3 separate regions of the Homo sapiens genome follow, and all the other regions are linked to region 3. The links come from fine-mapping of genetic effects on gene expression. A gene starts in region 3. Each other region holds a variant in brackets. All regions are shown on one strand. Distances are between the middles of the regions.

Region 1 (5,229 bases), 25 kb after region 3:
TCTCATACACAGCCACCAACACACACATTTAGCATCTGGACAACAGCAACAATCTCTATCATTTGCGCGATCACTGTATTCTAGTGGGCTTCTGTATATTGTGAGACTTTGTAAATATTATCTCTGGTCCTTATAATATCAATAGGATTGTAAGCATTATTATTTCCATTTTACATATGAGAACACTGAGGCCTACAAAGTTTAGGAGACTCAGGGTGAGCTAGTGAACAGCTAGCTGGTACAACTTAGGTTCGCTTGAAATCAAAGTCAATAACCTTTTTAGAAGCAAAGCTGGAGGACAACAGGAAGAAGGGCTGACCTCTCTGAGTGCATTTTCTACAAACGATGCCTTTTGGATAATTTTGTTGCCACAATTGAAAGACATTAGAGGAGGTCTGTGAAAACAAGAGTACAGAACGTGTAGGTATTGTGGTCTCAAGGCACCTCTTCCAGGAACCCACCTTCAAATCAATGACACAGGTCCTGCCCCCCGTGTCTTCCTCCCCCAAGATCATTTCTCATAGATTTTTCATCCCGTCAGTGCCATCTTCTACTGCACCAACTGGGAGATTCACAGGTGGAAATTGTGAGTGGAGAAACCTGTTCCTAATGCCTGTGACTATGTGCTCAAGTGTGGACAGGAGCTTTCGGATGTTACAGCCTAGTGTGAAGACAGATGTTCCCTACCCAACTCTGTGGCAAATCTTGTTATAAAGTGGAATAAGCTTTCCTGATGTGAACAGAGCTTCTAATTAACCTCCTCCATATACTGTGTTCAGGTTTTGCAAATTAGATCTCTTTGAAGTGAAGTGCACCTTTATTCTAACTAACGTATGTACTCACAGGCGAGTCCCACCTATCCAGTTTTACAAACCTTACTTTACATCTCATTGACCTTGAATGTCCCTAAGAAAGGTCCCACCAGGGCTGCTAGTGTCCAGCAGTTGGGAAGTTCCAGCCTGGGGAGGATGTTGGGGCCAGGGTGGGGAGAGCCTGTCTTGTAGTAGAGGCTACAGCTGTGGCTAATCTGTGATTTAGCCAGCTGCTGCAGCTGCTGAAAGGCTTCCTTGCATGGAAAAACTATTTCATAATCTCCAGATCCCTTTTTGGTAGAAAGAGGTTTCAGTCCTGCAAAGCTGGCCTCTTCCAGCAATGTGGCCTATCATGGAGGTCCCATCTCTGAGGCCTTCCTCCCATTCCTGTGTCTCAGCACCTGATCCCCATCGGGGGAATGGTCAAGGAGAGCAAGCTCTGTGAAGAGCCCCTTCTGAGTTGAGTTGCTGTGGTTAGAGAACTGAGAGAAAAGGGAAGGCAGGGGGCCAAGAGCTGTGACTGGCACTGTGAGCTTGGAGAAGTCACATCTCCTCTCTTAAACTTCTTTAAACCTCCAGGTCTCCTATAACCCTGGGCATAATATGATTCAGTTTTACCTTCCTACTCTTCATACCCAAGATGCTGTTTCCTGGCTCTTCTCCATCCCTTGAGTGCTCTGGGACTGGTGGGAGAGAAAGGAGCTACAGAGCTGGCTGCTGCTTCCTCTTTCCACCCATGTGGACATGATGGATCTTTCCTTTATTTATTTACTTTTATTTATTATTTTTATTTATTTATTTATTTATTTATTTATTTATTTATTTATTTATTTTGAGACTGAGTCTTGCTATGTCACCTAGGCTGGAGTGTGGTGCATGATCTCAGCTTACTGCAACCTCTGCCTTCCAGGTTCAAGCCATTCTCGTGCCTCAGCCTCCCGAGTAGCTGGGATTACAGGCATGTACCACCCTGCCCGGCTAATTTTTTGTGTTTTTAGTAGAGACACGGTTTTGCCATGTTGGCCAGGCTAGTCTCGAACTCCTGGCCTCAAGTGATCCACCCAGCTTCACCTCCCAAAGTGCTGGAATTACAGGTATGAGCTGTTGTGCCTGGCTATGATATATTTTTCAATACACACAGGCAGCACCAACCCCACAAAGCCACAGGCCTCTGCTGTGGGTCCTGGAAGCAATGGTAGCAAGCACCAATCTGGGGCAGGGAGATGGGGTGGGAGGCACTGCTGGGACCTGGGGTTGTACAGATGTGGATGCTTTTGAGAAGGTGAGGGCCATGAACTTCACGAGCAGGACTGCTAGGGTGTTCTTGCTCGCTTCTTCCTGCCTCCTTAGTTTTCCATTTCCACTTTGTCACTAATTTCCCCAGATTGAGATATTGGTTTTGGATGGCTCTTGTCATCTCTTCCCTATGACATGCAGGATCATGTCTTGCACAGAAAGTTGTTACAGGATGGGGAGAGAGTTCTCTCTATCGTTG[C/T]ACTCTTTTCCTTGACTGTCCTCTTACAGCCTGCTGGAGCCTCCAGAGGCCCTGGCCATGGGGTCAGACAGTGGGTGCCTGCATCCTAATTGTCCACTCTGTCATTCCTGGAGGCCCACAAGTGGCAGACTATTGGCTCTGAGCTCACAGTGCCAGTCACAGTGAGACTATTGTCTCACAAGGCAATAGTTCAAGAACGAGTTTCTCTCTCTAGTTACTGTCTATTACTGCTGCTGGATTTCATGTCACAGTAACCTTTCAGTTCACACTTTACTTTATTTATAATTTATTATTATTATTAGTTGCAAAGGAAAATGCTATTGATAGTGCTGCTTAGGACATAGACATATAAAGTGGAAATGTATAGTCTTTGTTAGATAAGAATGAGTTCAAATCTTGGCTCTACCACTTAATGTATCCAAAAGCAAACGCTTGGTCCTCTTCCTCTCCCCACTCCCTACTGCAAATGCTTCCCTCCCTCAGATATCCCTGTCTCTATAAATGGCCACTCCATTTTGCAAATTACTTGGGCCCCAAGCCAACAAATCATTCATTGTATCCCATGTTGAATCCATCAGCAGATTATGACAGCCTTACCTTTGAAAGCTCCAAAGCCAGCCTTCCCCATGACCCTCATTACTGCTGCAGTGGCCTGCACCCCCACCATCTTGCATATACACCACTGAAGCAGCCTCCTGTGTGACCTTCACTCTTGGTTCACTAGAGTGAGTATTCTCCTCAGAAGCCAGAGGGATCCTTTGATAGCCCAAGTCAGATCAGGTCATTCCTCTTTTCAAAGCCCCCAGAGACTTCTCTTGTTACTTAGTGTAAAAGACAATGTCATTACAATGGCCTTCAAGGCCATCCATAGTCCACTGTCCCTCTCACTTCCCTGGCCTCCCCTCCAGCCGCTTGACTTAACTCTGTCTAGATGCACTGGCCTCCTTGCTGTTGCTTGAACACATGAAGCAGGACCTTGGGTTAGCAGGGACATGTGTCAAAGAAAAAATGAGAGATTTTCTAAGGTCATGGGCTCAGGATATGTTCTTGGGAAGCACAGTCTCTAGGACACAGCTGGCATATTGTTCTGGGTTAGTTCTTTTTGAATATAAGCTCCACATTGGTGGGGATTTTTGACTGTTTTGCTCATTGATAACTCTTAAATGTCATTACATTCCCTGACACATAATGGATGTTCAGTGAAGTGCTGTTGAATGAATGAAGTGAGTTTTGGAGATTTGTATTTGAAAAGAGAGAGAAGAGCATGTGTAGATAAAAGTGCCAGGCCTGGAAACTGTGATTTGGAAGCAATGAACAGGGGAGGTGATGTTGTTTTGATTTGAGGAGAACTAGGGAGGGGAATGATGACTCTTCTTGAATACTTGCTGGTTGGTCTTCTGGAAGGGGAATTAGATGTATTCTCTCTGTCTACCTAGGGTAGACAATTAGAAGGAGTTACATTTGAAGGAGTTTTCTCTAATATGTTCAGTAGTCTGCAAATGGAAAATGGAATGGATTGTGTTGTCTATTGGAGAGTCCTTTCTTAGTTTAGGGTTCAAGCAGAAGCCAGTTGTCCACTTGTCACTGATGATGGAGAGACCCCCTTGTATTGCATAAACTATTGAACTAGGTCACCCAGGTGAACTAGATCTTTAACAATCTATGATCTTGACTAACCAACTGGTTTCTCTGATTTTTCTTTCTCATGTGTTTTTATGAAGAAATTGACAGTCCAACCAATGTTGTCACTGATCGAGTGACTGAAGACACAGCAACTGTCTCCTGGGACCCAGTGCAGGCTGTCATAGACAAGTATGTAGTGCGCTACACTTCTGCTGATGGGGACACCAAGGAAATGGCAGTGCACAAGGATGAGAGCAGCACTGTCCTGACGGGCCTGAAGCCAGGAGAGGCATACAAGGTCTACGTGTGGGCTGAAAGGGGCAACCAGGGGAGCAAGAAAGCTGACACCAATGCCCTCACAGGTAACAGAAGGACGGGAGCATAAATAGGTTTCCTCATGGCAGGGAGAAGGTTGATTTTTGAATCAGGAGGTCATTGCTCACCTGGCATCAGCTCTTTTGTTTGCAGGAGTGGGGAGGAGGTTGCAAAACCAATTTTGATTTTCATAATTATATATATTTTTCCTTTTTAACATCAAACAAAAGAGATCAGCTTTTTCACTTGATGCAGAAGGTCATACTTATTTGAGTTGGAATTCCGTATGCAACCCCCTCAGAATAGAGTAACACTTCCTAATTTTCATTTTTTAGATGTGAAAACTCAAAACATTGGGCTGACAGTGAATTTGAATGCTTATCTCAGTTTGCAGTGGCTGTGCAGGCACTTTGCATATAATCTGGAGCTCTCTTTTAGACCGTGGAAATAGTTTGCATCCTAAGTCAACATTTACTAAATGGACCAATTCTTCCTTTAAGCTTTCAGAAGCCATGAGGGTTCTCATACTTCACCCAGTCATTCTGCTCAGTTTGCGCCTGCAGGGGTCCTGGGACTATACTGGGACATAGCCCAGCCATTCTTTCTGCTTAAATCCTCTCCTGGTGCTTCTCTGAATTTAGAGCAGCCTGATCCTGGTGCCCGCATGAGGTTCCAAAACACCTGGCAGGAAATCAGAGGGAAAGGCTTCGCTTATTGTTTGCATTCTATTCTGGACAGTTACTGAGTATAGAGACTCTCAGAGAAGCAGAGAGATGGTTAGGAATATGGTTTCAGAAAATTGACTGTCCAGGTTTTAACCCCAGCTCTGCCATTGACTAGCTGAGTGGCTTTGAGCAAGTTACTTTACTTCCGTTCCTGTTTCTTATGGCACAAGTGAGAGCAATGATTTTTTAGAATGTTAATCAGTATTTGGCTCTTGAAAGATTTCGTGGTGCACAGCCTCCTAGATCCATGTGGGCCTCA
Region 2 (5,229 bases), 53 kb after region 3:
GAATAGCAGAGTGTACGTTGGCCAGAGTTTTGAGGATAAGGATAGCTCCTACGTTATATTCTTATTTTAGTGGAAGCGATATCTAACCATATTTTGTACAGTGATTTAATCAGCAAACCAGCATGATGAGTGAATCTATGATATGCTAGAGAATATTCAACCAGGGTTTTACTTTTTGCGGATTCCTTTAGTAATATATAGTGAGCATTTTCCACGTGCCCTGCCCACTACTAGGCACTGGGAACACAGGAGAATAGGATGCTGCCCTCTTCCTCCAGGGGCTTACATTTAGAAGTGGCTTTTAGAATCTTCTAGTATGAAATGGGAGGTCTTTACTGACATGATGTGAGACACAAAATTGTTAGTTCCTGGTGAGCAGAGACCATGTCTTTTCCAATTCTGGATTCTGCACACTGTCTAGAACATTTCATGGACAGAGTTGGGGCTTGATATACCCTTACTAGATGAATAAAAGATTTGTTTTGCTAAAGACTTGGTAGAGGTAACAGCCTGGATTCTCAGGTTCTGATCTATTGTGCTTTCTACTTGAGGAGCCAGGTATATCTTGGGGGAGAAGATGATGTCCATGAAACAGCTAAAAATGAAACAAGAGCATATGAGGCGGAAACCCCACACAACATGAAAGGGTTTCACCCCACGCAAAATGACCACCAGTTTCTGCACTCTGGCACCTGTTCATAGTGCATATTGGTCAGCATTTTTTTTTTCAGACATTGACAGCCCCCAAAACCTGGTCACTGACTGGGTGACAGAGAATACAGCCACTGTCTCCTGGGACCCGGTGCAGGCCACCATTGACAGGTATGTGGTGCACTACACGTCTGCCAACGGAGAGACCAGGGAGGTTCCAGTGGGGAAGGAGCAGAGCAGCACTGTCCTGACGGGCCTGAGGCCGGGCATGGAGTACACGGTGCACGTGTGGGCCCAGAAGGGGAACCAGGAGAGCAAGAAGGCTGACACCAAGGCCCAGACAGGTAATAGAAGTGAAGAGAAGAGCAAACCCGGGTAGTAGCTGCAGGTTGATCTATTGCAGCTGAGTGATGATGCAGCTGCTTTTGGCATCTGTAACCTCAGGGCTGCAGACTGTTTTAGGAGAGTTTGCTGTAAAAACAAAACAAAACAAAAACAAAAAACAAACAAAGAAACAAAAAACTTTCATTCACCCAAAGAAAGAACAACGTGTTATAGGAAAGGCGTCCCGATCCAGACCCTTAGAAAGGGTTCTTGGATCTTGTGCAAGAAAGAGTTCAGGGTGAGCCCATAGAGTAAAGTGAAAGCAAGTTTATTAGGAAAGTAAAGGAATAAAAGAATGGCTACTAGCCATGGGCAGAGCAGCCCTGAGGGCTTGTGGTTGTCCATTTTTATGGTTATTTCTTGAAGATATGCTAAACAAGAGGTGGATTATTCATACCTCCCCTTTTTAGACCATATAGGGTGACTTCCTGACATTGCCTTGGCATTTGTAAACTGTCATGGCACTGGTGGGAGTGTAGTAGTGAGGATGACCAGAGGTCACTCTCATTGCCATCTTCGTTTTGGTGGGTCTTGGCCGGCTTCTTTACTGCAGGCTGTTTTAACAGCACGGTCTTTATGACCTGTATCTTGTGCTGACCTCCTATCTTATCCTGTGACTTAGAATGCCTTAACCATCTGGGAATGCAGCCCAGTAGGTTTCACCCTTATTTGACCCAGTTCCTATTCAAGATGGAGTTTCTCTGGTTCAAGCATGTCTGACAAAACTATAGTAATGGACCCAGTGGGAGCAGTCCCATGAATGCCTTTTTTTTCTTTTTTTTTTTTTTTTGAGACAGTCTTGCCCTGTCGCCCAGGCTGGAGTGCAGTGGCGCTATCTCGGCTCACTGCAAGCTCCGCCTCCCGGGTTCATGCCATTCTCCTGCCTCAGCCTCCCAAGTAGCTGGGATTACAAGCGCCCGCCACCATGCCCGGCTAATTTTGTTTTTGTATTTTTAGTAGAGACGGGGTTTCACCGTGTTAGCCAGGATGGTCTCAATCTCCTGACCTCGTGATCCGCCTACCATGGCCTCCCAAAGTGCTGGGATT[A/G]CAGGCATGAGCCACTGCGCCTGGGCCCATGAATGTCTTAAAACTCTTTCCAAAGCCTGTGTTTTTAATCATTGTGTCTCTCAGCTATAGGAAATAATGTAAAACCAATATAAAATTCTTAAAACCACTGATTAAAAACCTGTTTTGTGGCAAGCTATTTTGTATAGGTTTGACCGAATAGACGCTGTGTGATAGAAAGGAGCAAGTATTCACCTGGGTGGCTGGAGCCCTGTTTCCTTGCAGTAGGCAGCTGACTTTTAATGAGCATCATCTAAGTGCCAGGCCTGGGGAACACAGTGGTGAACAAAACAAATATCTCTACTCTCTTGAAGTCTAGAGTGAAGATAGACAATAAATAAGAAAACACATTTAAAACCGTAAATTATGCTAAATTCTGTGAAGGAGATGAACATGGTGTAGGTATAGAGAATTACAGGGTAAGGATGTCTTGCAGATGGGAAGGGTGAGTAGTAATAGGATATACATAGACAGAAACACTCAAATAACAGTTGCATCAGCAGGAATGGAGTGTATTCCTCTCTGTAGAATGTCCAGGGCTGATACGGTAGCTCCTCGTCCAGGAGACCCAGGCTTCTTCTGTGATTGTTGCTTAGTCATCCCTAGCAATTTGCCCTCCTTTACCTGGTCACCACCCTGTCTGCATTGTAGCCAGTGGGAAGAGGCATGATGAAAGTCAGGGCATCACTGGGACATTGCACATATCAGCCCTTCTCATGTTCCATTGCCAGGTCCCAGACAGACCTCACTGCAAAAAAGGCTAGGAAATGAGGTCTTTAGCTGGATGGCCCTGTGCCCAGCTTTACTTTGGTTATGCTGTCCTGACCAACACAGCAGCTGCTAGCTACATGTAGCTATTAAAATTATTTTTATTTTTATTTTATTTTCAGAGACAGGGTCTCATTCTGTTAGCTAGGCTGGAGTACAGTGGTATGATCACAGTTCACTGCAGGCTTGACCTCCCGGGCTCAAGCCATCCTCCCACCTTAGCTTCCCAAGTAGCTGGGACCATAGGCACGTGCCACTAAACCTGTAATTTTTTATTTCTTTTAGAGATGGGGTCTCACTGTGTTGAACTCCTGGGCTCAAGTGATCCTCCTGCCTCGGCTTCCCAAAGTGCTGGGATTACAGGCATGGGTCACTATGCCCAGCCTAAATTTTAATTAATTAAAAATAAAATAAAAATATTTTCTCATTTGGATTAGCCACATTTCAAATGGTCAGTAGCCACATGTGACTAATGGCTACGGTATCGGACTGTGCCGATTATAGAATACTTTCATCATTGCAGAGAGATCTGTTGGACAGTAAGTGTGCTTACAGAAGAAGGGGGAGAATGGATTTTGGCAAAAACTAGCCATTTCTGGCAAACGGAAGAGTATGTGTGATGTCCCCCAGCTGGAATAGTACCTGGGATGGTTGGAGAATGAAAAGAGGCCAGTTTTGCTGGAGCATAGAGGGTGGAAGAGCAAGTGGCCTGAGATGAGGCGGGAGGAGCAGGGGCAGATCAGCCAGGACCATGTGGTACTTAGAGGACAAAATGGGCTATACTTATTAATACTAGAAGAGTGATATGATGCAGTGTTCATTTAAAAAACATTTTCCAGGCCACAGTGAGGAGAATAAATGGAGAAAATGACAAGGATAGAAGTTGGGAGGTTCGTAGGGAAGCTGCTAGAAAAGTCTGGGTGCAAAATGCTGCTTGTCTAGGTAAGCATGATGGCAAAAGGGACAGAGAAGAGGGGATGTCTGGAATATATTTTTGAGGTATGGATGATAATACCTGTTGATAGATGTGGGGTAGGAAGAAAATGAGGACTCAAGTATGACCTGTGTTTTTTATTTGAGCAACATGGGAGATTGGACTACCATTTCTTGAGAGGGGAGACTGAGAAATAAAAAGTTTGGGGAGAAGCATCAAGACTTTTAAATATTTAAGTTCAAGATACTTGTGAGATTCCTTGGTTAATTGAGTGATTCATTTATTGATTACATAAATATTTATTGAGTGTCTAATACAGGCCAGGCACCGTGGTGGAGATGCAGTTGTATAAACTAGTCAGGGGCTCAGAATTAATAGATATTGTGGAGCGATTAGCATCCAGTTGGTATTTAAAGCCATGGGCATGAGTGAGATCACCTAGGTGGAAAAGTACAGAGAGGAAAAGAGGGAGCTTTGGGACAGGTGCAGTGACTCTCACCTGTAATCCCAGAACTTTTGGAGGCTGAGGTAGGTGAATTGCTTGAGCTCAGGAGTTCAAGACCAGCCTGGTGAAATCCTGTCTTTACAAAAAAAAAAAATACAAAAATTGGCTGAGTGTGGTGGCATGCACCTGTATTCCCAGCTACTCTGGAGGCTGAGGTGGGAGGATTGCTTGAGCCTGGGAGGTCAAGGCTGCAGTGACCTATGATGGCACCACTGCTCTCCAGCTTGGGTGAAAGACCGAGACTCTGTATCAACAAAACAAAACAAAACACAACAAATAACAGAGAAAGGGAGCTTTGGGTGCTCCAGTGTTTGAAGGTTGCTAACAAAGGACTGAAGAAGAGCCAGTGAGTTAGGAAAATCAAGGGAGTATGTAGTCATGGAAGCCAAGGGTTGAGAGTGTTTCAAGAAGGAAGGAGTGGATCAGCTCTGCCAAATGCCACCCAGAAGCAGTGTAAAGTTGAGAATGGCAAGTATGCATTAGATGTGGCAACACGGATGTTGTTGGTGACTTAGACTAGCAGATTTAGTTGTGTGGCATAGAAAGATGCAAACAGGATTGATTGGAGAGTGAGCAGTGAAGTTAAGGTATGTAGACATTTCTCTTGAGACAATCTGTCAGTTTAAGGTTGCAGAGAAATGGAATGATACGGGAGAGGATGGGGGATTCTAGACCTTGCTTGTCTGGGACTGATGACAGAGAAGAAGAGATTGATGACACAGGAGAGAAAGGGCAGATCTGCAGCAAAGTCCTTGAGAGGGTGGGAAGGCCTAAAATTCAGAGCGAAGAGTCTTGGCTTTAACATAAGATGTCAACAGGAACTTGGCCTAGACCTTCCATTTCCCTGGGCCTCCATTCTCCTCCCCTTTTATAAGTCGGAAAGGTTGGAGGATATGACTTCTTGGCTCTCAAATTCTGTGAA
Region 3 (5,229 bases):
CACCCTGGCCAAATCTGGGGCAATTTGAGCAACAAAATAATGATAGTACAGGAATATAACCCATAGAATGAAAAAAAGAATATGAGTCACTTTGAATATAAGGTGATTAATAAAATAAAGGTGGGGGAAGAAAAATTACTTTTTATAATAGAATTCTATCTAGTAAACATAAAAAGAAAGATGAAATTAGGAAAATCGCCATTTGGCAGCCAGCATAGTAGTAATTGTTCCAGGCAAGAATCAACAATGGGTGTTAAAACTAGTGAGTGAAAATATAAAAAGAAGCAGAATATTTACATGGTTTAAAAACATCATCCCACAATATACCTGTTAAATAAAAAAGGGCAAATATTTACTGTGGAGAAACCTGGCAGATATCACCCTAACCAAGTGGTCCAAGGTAACATCACCAACACTGGGACAGACTGCCATCAAGTGTCTCCTGATGTGATGGACCAAAGACACGCCGCTTCTGCCGCTGCCTGCCAAAAACGTATGGCCTAAATCTAGGCATGAAAAAATACCACACAAATGCAAACTGAGGACATTCTTTAAAATAACTGACGTTTTCTCTTCAAAAATGTTAAGGTCATGAAAGATAAAGATTGAAGAACTATTCCAACTTAAGGAAATTTTAAAGACAGGACAACTAAATGCAATTAATTATCCTGAATTGAATCCTGGGTCTGTAAATTATTTTTCTTTTGCTATAAAAGACATTAGAGAAACAATCAATGGAATTTGAATATCGTCTGTAAATTAGACAATAGTATTATGTCAATGTCAATTTCTGATTTTGATCATTGTATTGAGGTTATGAGAGAGTATGCCCTTGTTGTTGGGAAACACCCTATACTAAAGTTTTTAGACATAAATGGGTAAAGAGATAAATCATGTCTTTAATTTGCTCTCAAATGTTTTCAGGGAAAACTATTAAGAGAGAATGAATGATTGGCAAATATGACAAAATGTTAACACTTGGAGAATATGAGTGAAGGGTATACAGGGATTCTTTTAATATTTTTGCAATTTTTCTGCAAGTCTGAAATAATTATAAAATAAAAAGTTTTTGTTTTTGTGTTTGTAAGGAATGAGCACGCACTTCCATCTGCCCTCATCCCTTTACCCTTCCTGTTGGCTGGGAGATGATGACCCTAGAGAGTGGTGGGTGTGTGCTGTGGATGGTGGCACTGCCCTACCAGCCCTGGGCCACTGTCTTCTACTGTTTGGGGAGAAATCATCTATGTTGTTAAGTCACTGCATTGGAGGGTCTCTTTGCTACAGCTCCATGTCCTGCAACTAACTAATACCAGCTGTAATAAGGAGAGATTGGAGGAAGGTGGCTTCTTAGGAGCCTGGTGCACTGGTTTAGTTATTCCTATTGAGGGCATGGAAAATGGGGTCACGGAGAGAGTTGGTGAAGACCACTCATTTGGGGAGAGTTAGTGAAAGGAAATTAAGAATAGGAGAGCAACTTGAGGGCGCAATAGAGTCTTAGGATCCTCTGGGAGAGATTTTCCCTTTTAAGAAGCAGAGAAAATAGTCCAAGGGAGAAAAGAGATGTTTGGGAGTTGGGAAATTTTCTGGTGACCCTGGTTCCTACTGCACTGGTCACCTCTGTATATGGCTGGCCCAGATTCCAGGGCCAGATAGCAGGATTATTTGTGGTTGTAAGTGAAGGGCAGAGAACTATGAACCTACCTGGACTGAGGTGGAGAGGATCAAATATGATTTAGTGGGATACATAAGGAGAATTAAAAAGTTATAATAATCATGGTAGCAGGTAATCTTTACCAAGTCCTCATTGTGTCTTGGGACTAGTCTAAGTTCTTTACCCCATCTACTCATTTGAACCTCACAATAACCATAAGACACTATTCCTATTTTACAGACGAGTAAGCTGAGCCACAAAGAAGTTGTCAAAGGTCATTTGCAAGTAGCAGACACAAGCTTCAGATCCAGGCAAGCTGCCTCTGGGAACCCCCCTCCAATTTCTGGGGGCCACTTTTTGGTCCCCCGTCTCTCCTTCTCCTTTCCCTCCAGCAGCATTTGATGCTGACATAGGTGAACTGGAAACATATGGTCTCCTTCATTTTGTTGTGGATCTGCACTCCAGAATCTACTTCCCACAGAGCAGGAGAGGGATGGGGTGTAAGGAAGGGTGGCAGGTGTCAGCCCATGCCCTATTGAAATGACTCTGGTTCATAGGAAGGATGAAGGCCTGTCCATCTGAGGGCAAAAGAGGAAGGGCAGCCAGAAAGGGGCACGACTATTCTTTCCTGATTTTGGAGCTCTTGTACTGTTGGCGTGTGGGAGGCATTTGGGATGGGGTGAGGGTCAGAGTGGGCTTGTGGGACCGAATGTCCCCAGTCTGTTATTCCTGCCCCCACTTCAGAGTCCTGCCACTCACAAGTGTGAGACGATGGATGAAGGAGGAGGGAAGTCAGAAGAGCTTCTGTCCCTGAGGGTCTCTGCTCATTTCTTTCTGTGCTAAAGGCTTTTTCCCATTTTAAAAGCAGTAGGCAGGAAGTCCCAGAATGCCTGAAACAGGAAAAAGAGAAAGAAACTTTATAAATGCACTTTTGAACCCCGAGACCCAGCTCCTGGCCAGGAGACAGGCAAACTCTTTTAATATCCTTATTCTGGATTCACTTAAATGGAAACAGCCTCCAGTATTTTTAGCTGCTGTGTAATCAAAGTGAAAAAGAAGAAGGAAATGTATATATTTTTCTTTCCTAGTTAGAATAAGAGAAGGAATTGCTCATTATCTTTTAGCAGAGTCCCTGCTAGGAAGGGAGGAAAACACCAGGAGTCTCCATTTGCTCCTCCTCTGGCCTAGACAGGATTTAAACCCAGGAAGGGAAGCCAAGGAGAGACGAGAACCAGGGACGACCAGCAAGTACCAAGGTCTGCGGCAGGAGGAGACCGGCTCACAGGAGCAGCAGCATTGGAAGAGGCACCCAGCAGCCTCCCAGGTAAGAGTGCCAGTTGCCCAAGCTTTACTTACTGGAGGGAGGGAGGTGGCCAATGCAGATGAGCTCAAAAGTGGTGGCTCAGGTGCCTCCGTTCCCGAGCCTGAAAATCCGGGCAGTGTAATTAGTCTCCTATCACCTCCATGAAGAGTTAAAATGAATTGGGAAGTACCTCTCAGGACCCGTGTACTGCATCCTTAGTATTATACTCCAGTCTCAGACAGGGCTAAGCATAGTTATCCTCTTTCCTGCAACACAGATGCGTCTGTGTTGTATCAGCTTCTACCTGGCGTAACACATTTTTGTATAAAATGTTTCCTTTAAGATGTTCCTTCTCATTTTTTTTTCTTTTTAACTTACTTACAATGTCAAAGCTTTCTCTCTCTCTGTCTTTTTTTGGATAATTTAGTATTGTTGTATTTCATTATTCTTTTAAATCCTAAAACAGAATTGTTATTTTAGTTATGATTAGGAAGCTATGATAACTTTCCCTTTGTCTGGATTTTGTGTGAATCAGTTAAGGGGATGTTTGCAAACACATTTGAACAGCTTTGAAGTATCTCCAGACATTTAATTTTACAGGTTTTAATTATTATTTGTTAAGACGACAACTTCTCTCGAAATCCCCATACTATTACCCTCACAATACCTCAAAGAAAACATTTCAAGACATCTAAAAAAATGATGTGGTTGGCCGGGCATGGTGGCTCATGCCTGTAATCCCAGCACTTTGAGAGGCTGAGGCAGGTGGATCACCTGAGGTCGAGAGTTCGAGACCAGCCTGACCAACATGGAGAAACTCCGTCTCTACTAAAAATACAAAAAATTAGCCGGGCGTGGTGGCGCATGCCTATAATCCCAGCTACTTGGGAGGCTGAGGCAGGAGAATTGCTTGAACCTGGGAGGTGGAGGTTGCGGTGAGCCGAGATTGAACCATTGCACTCCAGCCTGGGCAACAAGAGCAAAACTCCATCTAAAAAACAAAAACAAAACAAAGCAAACAAACAAAAAAAACTAGTTTTTGGAGGTCTTACTTTTTACTTATTTATTAATTTTTGTGCTTGGGAGAGATCTGGGGGAAGGATGGAGAAAGAATGAATGAGAACAGGCAGGGCTTCACTTAAAAGCATGAAACCTGTGTTGCTTATATAAGCATTAAAAAAAAGAACAAGTTCCAACATAAAAGTAACAAACTGCCCACATTGGGACACAGGTTAGCCACAGTGCCTAAAATCCACTGGTTCTTGGAAAAGCTGAGGTGTCACCAAGGCATCAGATGATACCTTGCTCGGTCAGGGCTACGTATTGGCAGCTGGCCTCTTGACATTCAGACATTTGTTGCAGACTCAGAATCAAGGTGACAGTGTCAGACACAGGAAAAAATAGAGTATCAATACTGGTATCATTTTTCCAGGAGAGAAGGGAAGAAGGCACCTGGCATTCTTTCATACAACTCTAAGTACTGCTTTGTCCCCAGTTTATAGGCTGCAGCTGACTCCCGAAGGAGGGAAAATAGAACAAATGATTTCAAATCATCCCGTGGCTTCTGGTTTTCCAGTCCAGTGCTGCTCTGTGGTTTGAAATGTAGGGTGGGCAGAGCTCTCTTTCTGAGAAGATGCCTGAGGAAATTGTGCCCAGGCCCAGTGGAAACTTTTGTCCATTCACTGCTCATTCCAGAGCCTTGGCTCCTATAGGATCTGGATACAGACATGAGATCATGGTTTAGGTCCTGTAGCCACATCTGGAGCCACCAGTCTGTGAGCAGAAGTTGCTAAGATCTCAGGCCTGATCTCTGGATGGACAGGGACTTTGCTGCTTCTGCCACAGTGGACTCACTGCTAATGCTGCCCAGCCACCATTTGAATCTGTACCCAGCGAGTGTGAGTGGAACAGTGCAAATGCTTGGAAATTAGCAAACGCTCTCCTCCTTGCTAGAAGACTGGAACTTTAAAGTTACTTCAATATGTGGAAAACAACACGTTAGCTAAAGAAAGAAATTGCAGAGTTTTTTGTTTTGTTTTGTTTTAATCTGACGCCCCTCACACCCATGGATATTAGGGCTAATTGTATACAAAGTAATATTTAGTCATTCTGGGGACTGGCTGTTTGGTTGAATAAGGGAGAGGAAGGTTCCTGAATTTAGGTCCCGTGTCTATTTTATCTTGTTATTGTGCATGAGCTTGGTCCCACAAAAGCTAAAGGAAGTTCTTGCTGTGAGAAAGTGATTCATTCTCTGGGGGTAAATGAACATCTTTGC

Direction of the effects. Positions count from the first base shown, and alleles are read on the strand shown. Sizes are in standard deviations (SD) of each study's normalised expression. Not every link is listed here.
For the expression in spleen of the gene that starts at base 2,873 in region 3, G is the high allele of the variant in region 2 and A is the other (moderate effect, 0.50 SD a copy in GTEx).

The links. PIP is the estimated chance that this variant, and not a neighbour inherited with it, causes the effect.
Region 1: its variant is the best candidate, but not a certain one, in a credible set for the expression of TNN in lung (TOPMed, PIP 0.62).
Region 2: its variant is the best candidate, but not a certain one, in a credible set for the expression of TNN in spleen (GTEx, PIP 0.73).

Annotation. Positions count from the first base shown.
Region 1 is chr1:175,089,962-175,095,190 of GRCh38, forward strand. It overlaps TNN (tenascin N), which reads left to right. Exons shown (of 19, transcript NM_022093.2): 7 at 4,029-4,292. Among named protein-coding and RNA genes, the nearest start is that of TNN, 25 kb to the left of the region's middle. The variant C/T (reference allele first, on the strand shown) is at 2,308.
Region 2 is chr1:175,117,830-175,123,058 of GRCh38, forward strand. TNN (tenascin N) reads left to right here. Exons shown (of 19, transcript NM_022093.2): 11 at 732-995. Among named protein-coding and RNA genes, the nearest start is that of TNN, 53 kb to the left of the region's middle. The variant A/G (reference allele first, on the strand shown) is at 2,083.
Region 3 is chr1:175,064,961-175,070,189 of GRCh38, forward strand. It overlaps TNN (tenascin N), which reads left to right and starts at 2,873. Exons shown (of 19, transcript NM_022093.2): 1 at 2,873-2,975. RefSeq lists an enhancer at 2,194-3,393.